Regions from separate parts of the Homo sapiens genome. Here region 2 is linked to region 1. The links come from fine-mapping of genetic effects on gene expression. Tissue or cell type: whole blood. Region 1 holds a variant in brackets; the other region holds the start of a gene. All regions are shown on one strand. Distances are between the middles of the regions.

Evidence for each region. PIP is the estimated chance that this variant, and not a neighbour inherited with it, causes the effect.
Region 2: it holds the start of UBASH3B, and the variant in region 1 is fine-mapped to the expression of UBASH3B in whole blood (INTERVAL, PIP 0.91).

What each region holds. Positions count from the first base shown.
Region 1 is chr11:122,715,006-122,720,269 of GRCh38, forward strand. The region is part of intron 1 of UBASH3B (ubiquitin associated and SH3 domain containing B); the gene reads left to right. Among named protein-coding and RNA genes, the nearest start is that of UBASH3B, 62 kb to the left of the region's middle. The variant T/C (reference allele first, on the strand shown) is at 2,871.
Region 2 is chr11:122,653,319-122,658,318 of GRCh38, forward strand. UBASH3B (ubiquitin associated and SH3 domain containing B) reads left to right here and starts at 2,404. Exons shown (of 14, transcript NM_032873.5): 1 at 2,404-2,892. The coding sequence starts at 2,732. RefSeq lists an enhancer at 2,309-2,810 and a silencer at 3,014-3,063.

The DNA of each region.
Region 1 (5,264 bases):
CGTGATCTCGGCTCACTGCAAGCTCCGCCTCCCGGGTTCACGCCATTCTCCTGCCTCAGCCTCCCGCGTAGCTGGGACTACAGGCGCCCACTACCACACCCGGCTAATTTTTTGTATTTTTAGTAGAGACGGGGTTTCACCGTGTTAGCCAGGATGGTCTCGATCTCCTGACCTCGTGATCCGCCCGCCTCGGCCTCCCAAAGTGCTGGGATTACAGGCATGAGCCACTGCGCCCAGCCGAGATAAATGTTAAATGCTGACACAGTGCTTAGCATTTAAATAACACTTAAGATGTCATGTCTTATTATTGATTGGCGGTTGAGGTGGGACTTCATGGTCTGGACAGACCTTGCATTGCTGCCATCAAAAGTTGCCTCCTTCAAAACAGTTGTAGCGCTGCTGTCAGTGTCTGTTAAGAATGAGGTGGTGCATATGCTACGGCAGAGACAATCCAGAAAGCTTCTGAATCAATAGAACCTCTGAGGCTGTTGTAGCTTTGGCATAGCTATCATCTTTTAGGGCCATTTACCCAATGTGTCACCAAAGAGACACAGCAGAAACTGCTGGAGAAACACGGATCCGAAAGCCCAGTAATGACGGCTCCTCTCCTCTTTCTATTCTCTCCACCCATCTGTTCCCCTACTTCCTTCAAAGCACACATAGACACACACCCCTTTTGTCTCTCTCAAAACAGGGGATAATTAAAAAACCAAAATCCAAACATCCAGCAGAAGTTTATGCTTGAGTCTCAGAACACAACATATGGCTTCCCAGCCATTGCCAGGTTCTGTAACCACAAAGAGAGAGGTCTCCAGCCTCCACCGTGGTCCCCTGGCTTTGCCACTATTTGCTGACAGAGGCAGCACTCCTCCGCCAAGGACTAGAGGGTCATGGTGTTCAACCCCTTGAATTGTAGTCAAAATTACATTTTCCTGTCATTTGAAAATGCTCCAGAAACAGAGGAGATTCAAGTGCTTCCTTTCTTTGTCCCTGTTTCAGCTTTCTCTTTCCAGTATTGGATTAGAGGCAGCAGGGACTGTGGAGAGAGGACGAGGAGGTGGAATTTCCTGATCGTGATGCAGTGTCCCTCTGTGGGGGCAGAAAAACTGCACGGTAGTAGCAGCAAGCTGGGGCTGGTGAGAACTGCGAGAGGAAGGGGGATCTCAGCTGCAGAGGAGAGCTCTGAGACAGGGTCTCACTCTGTTGCCCAGACTGGAGTGCAGTGGCTCAATCCATGACTCACTGCGGCCCCAGCCTCCTGAGCTCATGTGGTCCTTCTGCCTCAACCTCCCAGCTTGCTGGGACTACAGGCATGTAGCACAATGCCCAGCTAATTTTTTTGTATTTTTAGTAGAGACGGTGTTTTGCCATGTTGCCCAGGCTGGGTTATTTTTTATTTCTATTGCCCAAGTCACATGGAGGAATTGTGTCAGATTGTAGTAAGAAGAGGATGATTCTACCTTATCCTCCCTCCACAAAACACACACATATGCCGTGAGTTAGCTTTTCATCTCTGCCCCTCTAATATCCCTTGTGTGGCCTCTTGCATGGGGAATCGCTGTCCACCCAGAGACTTGGGACATCAGGATGTCCTTTCACCTCCTGAGGCAAGGTTGCCTGTGGGAGACCTTGCTCAGAGCTTTCAGTCTGCCCCGCTCTGTAAGGAGGTTTGGGTTGCAGACATGTCCTTTCTCCACCTGAAGGCAGGTAATGCAACCACAATGTCACCCAGTTCTGTAAAATTCCTGTCTAAGGAGTCCAGTTCAGTTTTCTGAATCTTGAACAGCAGACCAGGCTAAAGAGGGGAGCCCCAGAAAGCTTTGCTGGAAGGAAGAGAAAGACAAAAGCCTTGCCTTTTCTCTCGGTAGAAGCTGTCGGTCATGGCTCTTCTAGCCTCACAATTTGGAGATGTTAGATGGAATCAGGATGATTATAGCCTCATCTCCCCTTCTCCCGTCCTGTCTAAGTAGTCACACAGATTGATGCCTTAATTTCCCATAGCACAGCCGAGGCCAAGGTGTAACAAACTGAACAAGACTTTACTAGCAGCTCAGGATCAGGACTATGCTTAGGACCAGCCCATTCTCAGGGGGTTCCCTCAAAGCTACCACTGTATGACAGAGATCCCTGTCCTCTCGCCCCCAGAAAAGTCCTCAAGTTTTGCCAGACTCCTGGGAGTACTAGCATAAGAAAGCAAGGCCCAGAGACATGGAGATTCTCTCTTCTTCTCCCACCTAAGGCCTTCCTTCCAAATCCTCATTGCCTGTCCTAAGAACCACCACTTCCTGGACTAACCGATAGCGGAAGGGCCAGGTTCCCTCTCTGCCCCTGAGGAAGTGATGCTACCCCACAGTCCGAGGAGATAATCACATCAGAATATAGCAGACCTGCAGTAGTGTGAGAGATTTCCTGGCAGTAAGAAGGGGTAGGGAGGAGGATGTCCTTGTCACACCCAGGCTGCCTGGATCCTGTGGCCTCCACCACATGCATTAGGCGTGGCTCTGGCCACAGATCAGTAGAGGGAGAAGCACTGCACACAGCACGGATGCTTGTAAATGTCAATTGCCCTCAGTGGCTATAATTAGTTTCTCTGGTACCCTGTGTTCAGCAAAGTGGGGAAACAGCCCCTTAGAAAGTGTGTATTTTCCACCGCTGTACCTCGTGATATCACCACAGGTGCCTTCTGGCTGACCCCAAGTTTCTCGTTGTTCTCCAGGAACTGCTGTGACTGTTGGTGGCAGTTCTATAACTCTGAGAAGTCACAGGGGGCCCGGTCAACCACCAGCAAATGACTTCCTGTTCCCTTCCCCTACTGTCCCCCACCCCCCATGACACTAGGCCAGTCCTTGCCTGGTGAGAATAAATTCAAC[T/C]GTACGTGGATTTCTCACCCAAGTTTCTTTCTTTCTTTTTTTTTTTTTCGGACAAGTCTCACTCTGTCACCAGTCTCACTCTGTCACCCAGACTGGAGTGCAGTGGCGCCATCTTGGCTCACCGTAACCTTCGCCTCCTGGGTTCAAGAAATTTTCCTGCCTTAGTCTCCCAAGTAGCTGGGATTACAGGCACCCACTACCAAGTCTGGCTAATTTTTGTATTTTTAGTAGTAGAGACGGGGTTTCACCATGTTGGCCAGGCAGGCCTCGAGCTCCTAACCTCAAGTGATCCTCCCGCCTTGGCCTCCCAAAGCGCTGGGATTATAGGTGTGAGCCACCATGCCCGGCCTCACCCAAGTTTTAAACACGTCCAAGAAAGTGGATGCATACCTACCTAGTCTAATGTTTAAAATACATTTCGGATGAAGCATTTCTTGTTCTAAAACTACTTAACATAGAGCCCTGGCGCCTCAGATTCCTTGCAAGTCACTAAGTCAGTGCATGGCATTGGGTACTAGTGTTATATTATTGGGCAGACTTGTGAAAGGATGTGGAGTCTCAGACTCCAGGTTTGAATCTGCCATCTCCAGCCGTGTGACCTTGGGCAAGTTATTGAAGCTTTGAACACTGGCTTCTTGATCCATCAAATGGGATATTTAGGGGGGAAATGGGATAGTAGGGATTGTGTGAGGATTAAGTATGATGACATATGTAAAAGCAAATTAACACTGCACCCAGCAGGTCCTCAATTATAGTACTTTTTATATTCATAGTATGGAATAAAGAAAAGTCTTTTTGATTGGAGCCCCAAAAAAGGGATATTAGAGGGTCAGAAATGAAAAGCTAACTCATAGCGCATGTGTGTGTTTTGTGGCGGGAGGGATAAGGTAGAATCATCCTCTTCTTACTCCAATCTGACACAATTCCTCCACGTGACTTGGGCAACAGAAATAAAGAATAACCCAGCCTGGGCAACATGGTGAAACACCGTCTCACCTAAAAATACAAAAAATTAGCTGGGCATTTTGCTACATGCCTGTAGTCCCAGAAACCTGGGAGGTTGAGGCAGGAGGACCACCAGAGCTCAGGAGGCTGGGGCTGCAGTGAGCCATGATTGATCCACTGCACTCCAGCCTGGGCGACAGATTGAGACCGTCTCTCAAAAATAAATAAAAAACACTTACTGAGTATTACCATGTGATAGCTGCTGTTCGAACAATCTAAGCATGATTACGTTAGATTGGTGATGGGTATTCTTACACTGCCAATTTACAGATGGATTAACTAACACGCTGAGGTTAAAAGTAACTTGTCTAAGACCACGCGGCTAATAATTGGGAGTGCCCGGAAGTCAATTCCCTTCTCTAAGCTTCAATTTCCTCATCAGATGATTGGTTTAGATACCCATGTCCACCAGTGCTCAAAATTTTACATCTGTGCTAAATTTAACCAGGAAATTTGGGAGTTATGTTAGTGATGTTTGCAATGGAAAAGAAATGGTTTAGGAAACTTAACATGGCTTGAAACTCTTTAAAAGTCTTTCTTACCATTTTTCTTGTCCCTTTCTTTCATTACTCTCTCCTTGTCTTTTCCCCTTCGTCCTCCTTAAAATAAGTCTCTGAGAGGGAAAAACCTGTGGTTCACATCATGAGTTCATCAGAACCAGGCATCTATGTATCCCATCACATAGGTCAAGGAGCCTCCCAGCAAAGGTAGTAATAATCAGCCTTAGTAGCTGGAAAGATCATTTCATCTGTTTCTCTTCTTGCAAAACCTAAAGTGTTAAATCAGATTCTTGAACAGTAACACTTCCCAAACAAGTTGTCTCTACTGGCTGTTTCCACTTCCTATCCTCCTCTTTTCTCTTAAACTTATTTCAATCAGGCTTCTGTCACACTGCCCCCCAAAGCTGCTGTCATCAAGGTCACTAATGGCCACAGTAGTGCCATATATTGTGAGCAATTCCATCCTCCATCAGCAGCATTGGATGCAGGCGATCAGTCCTCTCTCGATGCTTCCTTAAAGACCCTTGGCTTCTAGGAGTTTCTTCTCTCTTAGTCCTCCTACTGCAGTGCCTGCTTCTGCTCCAACTCCTTGGCTGGCTTCCTCATCTCCTCACCTGTAAATATTGGAGAGCCCTCAGCTGAAAACCATGGACCCCTTCTCTCCTTTGTCTAAACTCACCCCCATAGTAGTCTCCAAACTCCTGGCTTTATGTACTATCCATATGCTGACAACTCCTGCACTTACATCCCCCACCCAGTCCTCTCTCCCATTTTCCAGACTCCGTACTCAGCATCTCCTATGGATGTCAAATAGGCATCTCAAACATGGGTCCTCCCACAGTCTTGTCATCTCCAAGCAGGATAACTCTTTCTTCCAGATGTTCATTCT
Region 2 (5,000 bases), 62 kb before region 1:
CAGGGGTTTGCACTGAGCTGAAGACAAGTGAGGAAGCCAAGCTGGGATTTCTGTAAAAGTGTCCCAGACAAAAACAGTTTGCATCTCAGGTGCCTAGTTTTTCATAGTGCTTTTTCCAGTCTACCTAAAACTATTTTTATATGCATCATTTCCTTTATCTTACAGTTTGCCTAAAGGCAGGGAGAAAGACAATTAATTCAATTTTTCTGGAGAAACAGAGATCCAGCAATTCTATGTCAAGGGGCATAGATGGAGTCAAAAAACTATCTTAAAGGCTGGTGTCCTTTTATCATCATAACAATGGTCGTTAACTAGTTGTTTGGCCAAATGTTAAGAGTTCAAATCTTGGCTCTGCCATTTACTAGCCATGTGACCTTGGACAAGATACTTGACCTCTGGCTCAGCACCTTCATTTGTAAAGTAGTTCCTAGTTCATAGTCTTGTCAAGGAATTGTTTGAGTCACATATGTAAGAAGCAAAGAACAACACCAGCATATAGTAAGTACTCAATAAATTTGAGTTATCATTTATGTAGCGCTTTATGGTTTACAAAGCGCTTTCACATACATTATTATCTCTTGACTAAGATCCAGATCATTTGACTTTCAGCCCAGGCATTTGGAAACAATTCAGAATACTGGATAAAATCCAGCATGTTTTACCGAACACATCCAAGGAGGCTAATACTAGGTATGGTGTTGCCAGCCCAGTCTTGTCTTTTTGCTCCATGTCCTGGAAGAGCATTCTGCAAGGTCTCCAGGATATCCCCTTTGCTCTGGAAGCAGCTACTACCCAGGAAGCATTAATTTTCCCTCATCCTTTGTACAGCAGGAGGCAGAATTAATACACATTGTTGCTTAAGCTCCAGCTGTCTTATCTCCCTGCTTCCAAACACCACTGGCTATTCTTTAGGAAACCAATTCCGGGCTCAGGGAGTTACACTGTATCATTTCCCCTGGTAAAACCTTCACAGGCCTTATAAAGCAACCTCAAAAAGCCACTCCATGGGTGCTGGTCACCATCCCTCCCCCATATTCCAACCAGGGACAGGCCCGGACTGACATTTCTGGAAAACCCAGTGTGTGCAAGGTTAGGTTACCACGGTCCATACCAATGAGGAAATTAGGCTGTAGAGAGAAGTAACTTGTCTAAGGCACCGCAGTGGATACGAGTGCTGTAGCTACGCACTTACCAGCTCTATGATCTTCCCCAACCTCTCTGAGCTGAGTTTTCTCATCTGTAAAACTGGGATAATGATTAAACACACTCCTAGGGTCAGTATAAAACTTCAGTGAGTTCATTCATTACGATTAGCACAATGACTGGCACATACAAGAGCCCAATAAATGTTAGGTTTTATTATTATTATTACCCAAAAAAGACTATCAGTTAGGGTGTACTCATTGCCTCTTTCATTATAGCAAGTGGGACCCTTGTCCCTGACTGAAGACAATGACTTTGTTTCCAAACGAAAGAGGGTTAGCATCCCCCAGCCAAATTCACCAGGTGGGGCATGGGGCATCAATATGGTTGTGGCTTCCACCATCTTTGCAGTGGGAGTAGTTTTGTCCAGCCTATGATACAATTCACTTATTATTGTGCAGTGGTGATTCGGTCCGTCTTTGAATCCTTTTATTGACAGGATATCCACTCCCTAATGAAATAAGCCCGTTCCCTTTTGAACACCTCTTATAATTAGGAAGTATGTTTTCTCTGTTCCTTCTTCCTCTACCCTCCTAGCCCTTCCTTCTTCTCCTCCTCCTTCCTCCTTTCTTTTTCCCTTCCCTCTTCTTTCTGCCCTGTCCCTCTTTTCTTGTCCCCTCCCAGGTCCTGCCACCTCTGAGAACCTGAGGTCCTTCTCCCCAACCCCTCTGCCCCACCGGGAAGGCACTATTCAGTCACTGACCATAACCTTGTAGAGCGCAGTAGGTCTTTAGTGCAGCCACTTGGCCGGCTGATTGGGAACTCAACTTCCGATGGTCCTAACAACCCTTTGGGTTTTGCAGGATCTTTGAGAAGCAAAACCTTTTACCTAGGCCTTACGGCTTGGCCTTCTGGTCCATTAGTATCATCCACCAGTTCACCCAATTTCCATTAATAACCGCATCTAGAATCACATGAAACTTGAGATGGGTTGATCTCCTGTCTTGAGGCCCAGCTGGGCGGGTATGCCAGCCAAGGAGAGGGCTGGGGCGCCGGGGGTGACTCTCGGGAGGTGAAGCACACAAGCAGCCCATAAGGTTGGGATCCTCCGTCTCCAAGTAGCGCGACTACAGCTCTTGCCCGCACGGAGCAGCCTCGGACAGCGCGGCCGCTTTAAGAGAGGGGCGGGGCCCGGGTACAGGCAAGTCAGGGCCAGCCCACAAGGCTCCTTTTCCTTTTTGATCCATTCAAAAATTACTCATTGCAAATTCCCGGACTGCTAGGCGAGGAGAGGGAAGGGGGCGGAGGAGACAGGGCTACTGCAGGCGCAGAGCTGGGGGCAGCCGGGGGCCCGAGTGGCTGAGGCTGGTCCCGCAGCGGCCGCTTGCCGGCGTTCTGGCTCCTGTGGCCTCACCAGGAAGCGTCAGAGTCCCGACACTGGGGAAGCTCGGAGCGCCGCCTCCGCTGCCGCCGCCTCCTGCCTGGCTCTGGGTCCCCGAGCCCCCTCCCCTGGCCCAGCCCGACTCCCTCCTCCTTCCCGAACCATCCGGCTCGGGCTCCTTCCCTGGCGATGGCTGGCCGCTGAGCCATGGCTCAGTACGGCCACCCCAGTCCGCTCGGCATGGCTGCGAGAGAGGAGCTGTACAGCAAAGTCACCCCCCGGAGGAACCGCCAACAGCGCCCCGGCACCATCAAGCATGGATCGGCGCTGGACGTGCTCCTCTCCATGGGGTTCCCCAGAGCCCGCGCGTAAGTGGCCGGGCTCGCAGCCCTCGGCGACCCCTCCCGCGCGCGCGGCCGGCCCTCGGCTTCGCTCCGGCTCGCCTCCCAGCGCCTGCGGGACAGGCAGCGCGCTCCCCGCTGCCCGAGACCTGTTGGGGGCGGGATGGGCGCGCTGGCAACCCGGGACTCGGCTCCGGGCGGGGGTGCGGGGGAAGACGCGGCGCGGGGGCGTTGGGCCAGGGCTCGCCGTGGGATGCCTAAAGCTGGGGGACGAGGGCGCGGGGTTCGAGTCCCGGGTATAGTGCTCAGCCTCCGCCCCAGCCGGGTGGAGCTCAGCGTTTCTCTCGCGCGCTCCCCTAGGTCTCCAGCGCCGAGCGCCTAGGGAGGCGGGGCCCTGCGGAGGACTCGGGCACCCTCTCCGTCTGGAATACTGGGCTGGTCTGGGATCCTCCGGTGTCTGGGAAAGGGCGGGAGACTGCGGGGCAGGGAGGCCGGCGCCCCCGTTGCAGCGGCTTCCAGCTCCGGATGTCGCTCTCGGGTTCGGTCTCCCCCTGGAGTAGGAGGAGCGGGAGCGTGGGTGTTCCTGCGTGTTCATTGATGGGGAGGATGGAATCAGAAGGAGAAGCGATCCCTCCAGGGGACCTGGGTTCTCGTCAGTGGTGACGGCAGCTCAGAAATCTGTGGGTGCCTGAGAGTAAGGAGGGGGAGCTGTTCTTCATCCTTCCTCTAGGAGAGTGGGGTAGGGGAGGGCAGGGAGAGCGCAGGTGGCTGCCCCTGGAGCCTGCTGGGGAGAGGCCTGTTTGCCAGCATAGGGTGGCGGCGGCCGGAGTCGTCTCAGGCCGGTCGGCTCAAGTCTCAGGGGCTGGAACTCTGCCTAAGAGGAAGCCAAGGCCCAGCGGCCAGGCCCTTCTCCCCTGGTTAATCCCTGCCGTGCAGATTTCTTAGGTGGGGACACAAGGCCTGGCGTCCGGACTGGGCGCAGCTTCTTTTCATCTTTGAATTACAGCACCTGAACAGGAGAGTTGGCCAAACTTAATCAGTGAGGGCCAAGTAAATGAAAGTCCTTTTTATTTTTTTCCCTTCTCACATTTTTTTTTCAGGTGATAACTTTATTTATGTATTTATTTTTCTGAGACGGAGTCTCGCTGTGTCGCCAGGCTAGAGTGCAGTGGCGCAATCTCTGTAACTTCCGCCTCCCAGGTTCAAGCGATTCTCCCACCTTAGCCTCCTGAGTAGCTGGGACCATAGACATGCGCCACCACACCGGGCTAATTTTTATATTTTTAGAAGAGATGGGGTTCTGCCATGTTGGCCAGGCTGGTCTCGAACTCCTGACCTCAGGTGATCCACCCACCTCGGTCTCCCAAAGTGCTGGGATTACAGGCAATAACTTTATGTCTCCCCTCCCTTATCTCTGGGCAAACCTTGTTTATTCTCTACTAACTTGGTTGTAATCTGTTAATCAAAGTAGACCCTTGAATTTGTTATTCTCCAGGCTGCTGGGACACGTTGGAGTGGCCTTAGAAGGCTGCAAAATGGACTGATGGTTTCTGCCTTCCACTGACGTCCCAATACGACTTCCTAATACTAGGGCTCCAGTTCCTGATACCAGAATTACAGGGAGAAAATGTGGGTTCTGCAGGGGTGTGTCAGGTGTGGACGCTTCAGGTGAAGTCGTCGGTGTGGATGATCAATGTGCACAGCTCTCCTTAAAAACTGGAGGTGGGGCTGGGTGTAACCCCAGCAGTTTGGGAGGCTGAGGCAGCCGGATCACTTGAGATCAGAAGTTTGAGACCAGCCTGGCCAACATGGTGAAACCCTGTCTTTACTAAAAATACAAAAATTAGCTGGGTGGGGTGGTGCATGCCTGTAATCCCAGCTACTTGGGAGGCTGAGATAAGAGAATCGCTTGAGCCCAGTAGGTGGAGGTTGTAGTGAGCCAAGATCGCACCACTGCACTCTAGCCTGGGTTACAGAGCGAGACTTCATCTCAAGAAAAAAAAAAAAAAAAAGCTGGAGGTGGGAGTGGGGAAGTCAGCTGGGGAATGCTGCAGAATTAGCATAGTCTCAGGCTACTGCCTTTTTTGAAATAAGGCCAGCATTAAAAACCTAAATTGCTTAATTAAGGGAAGAAA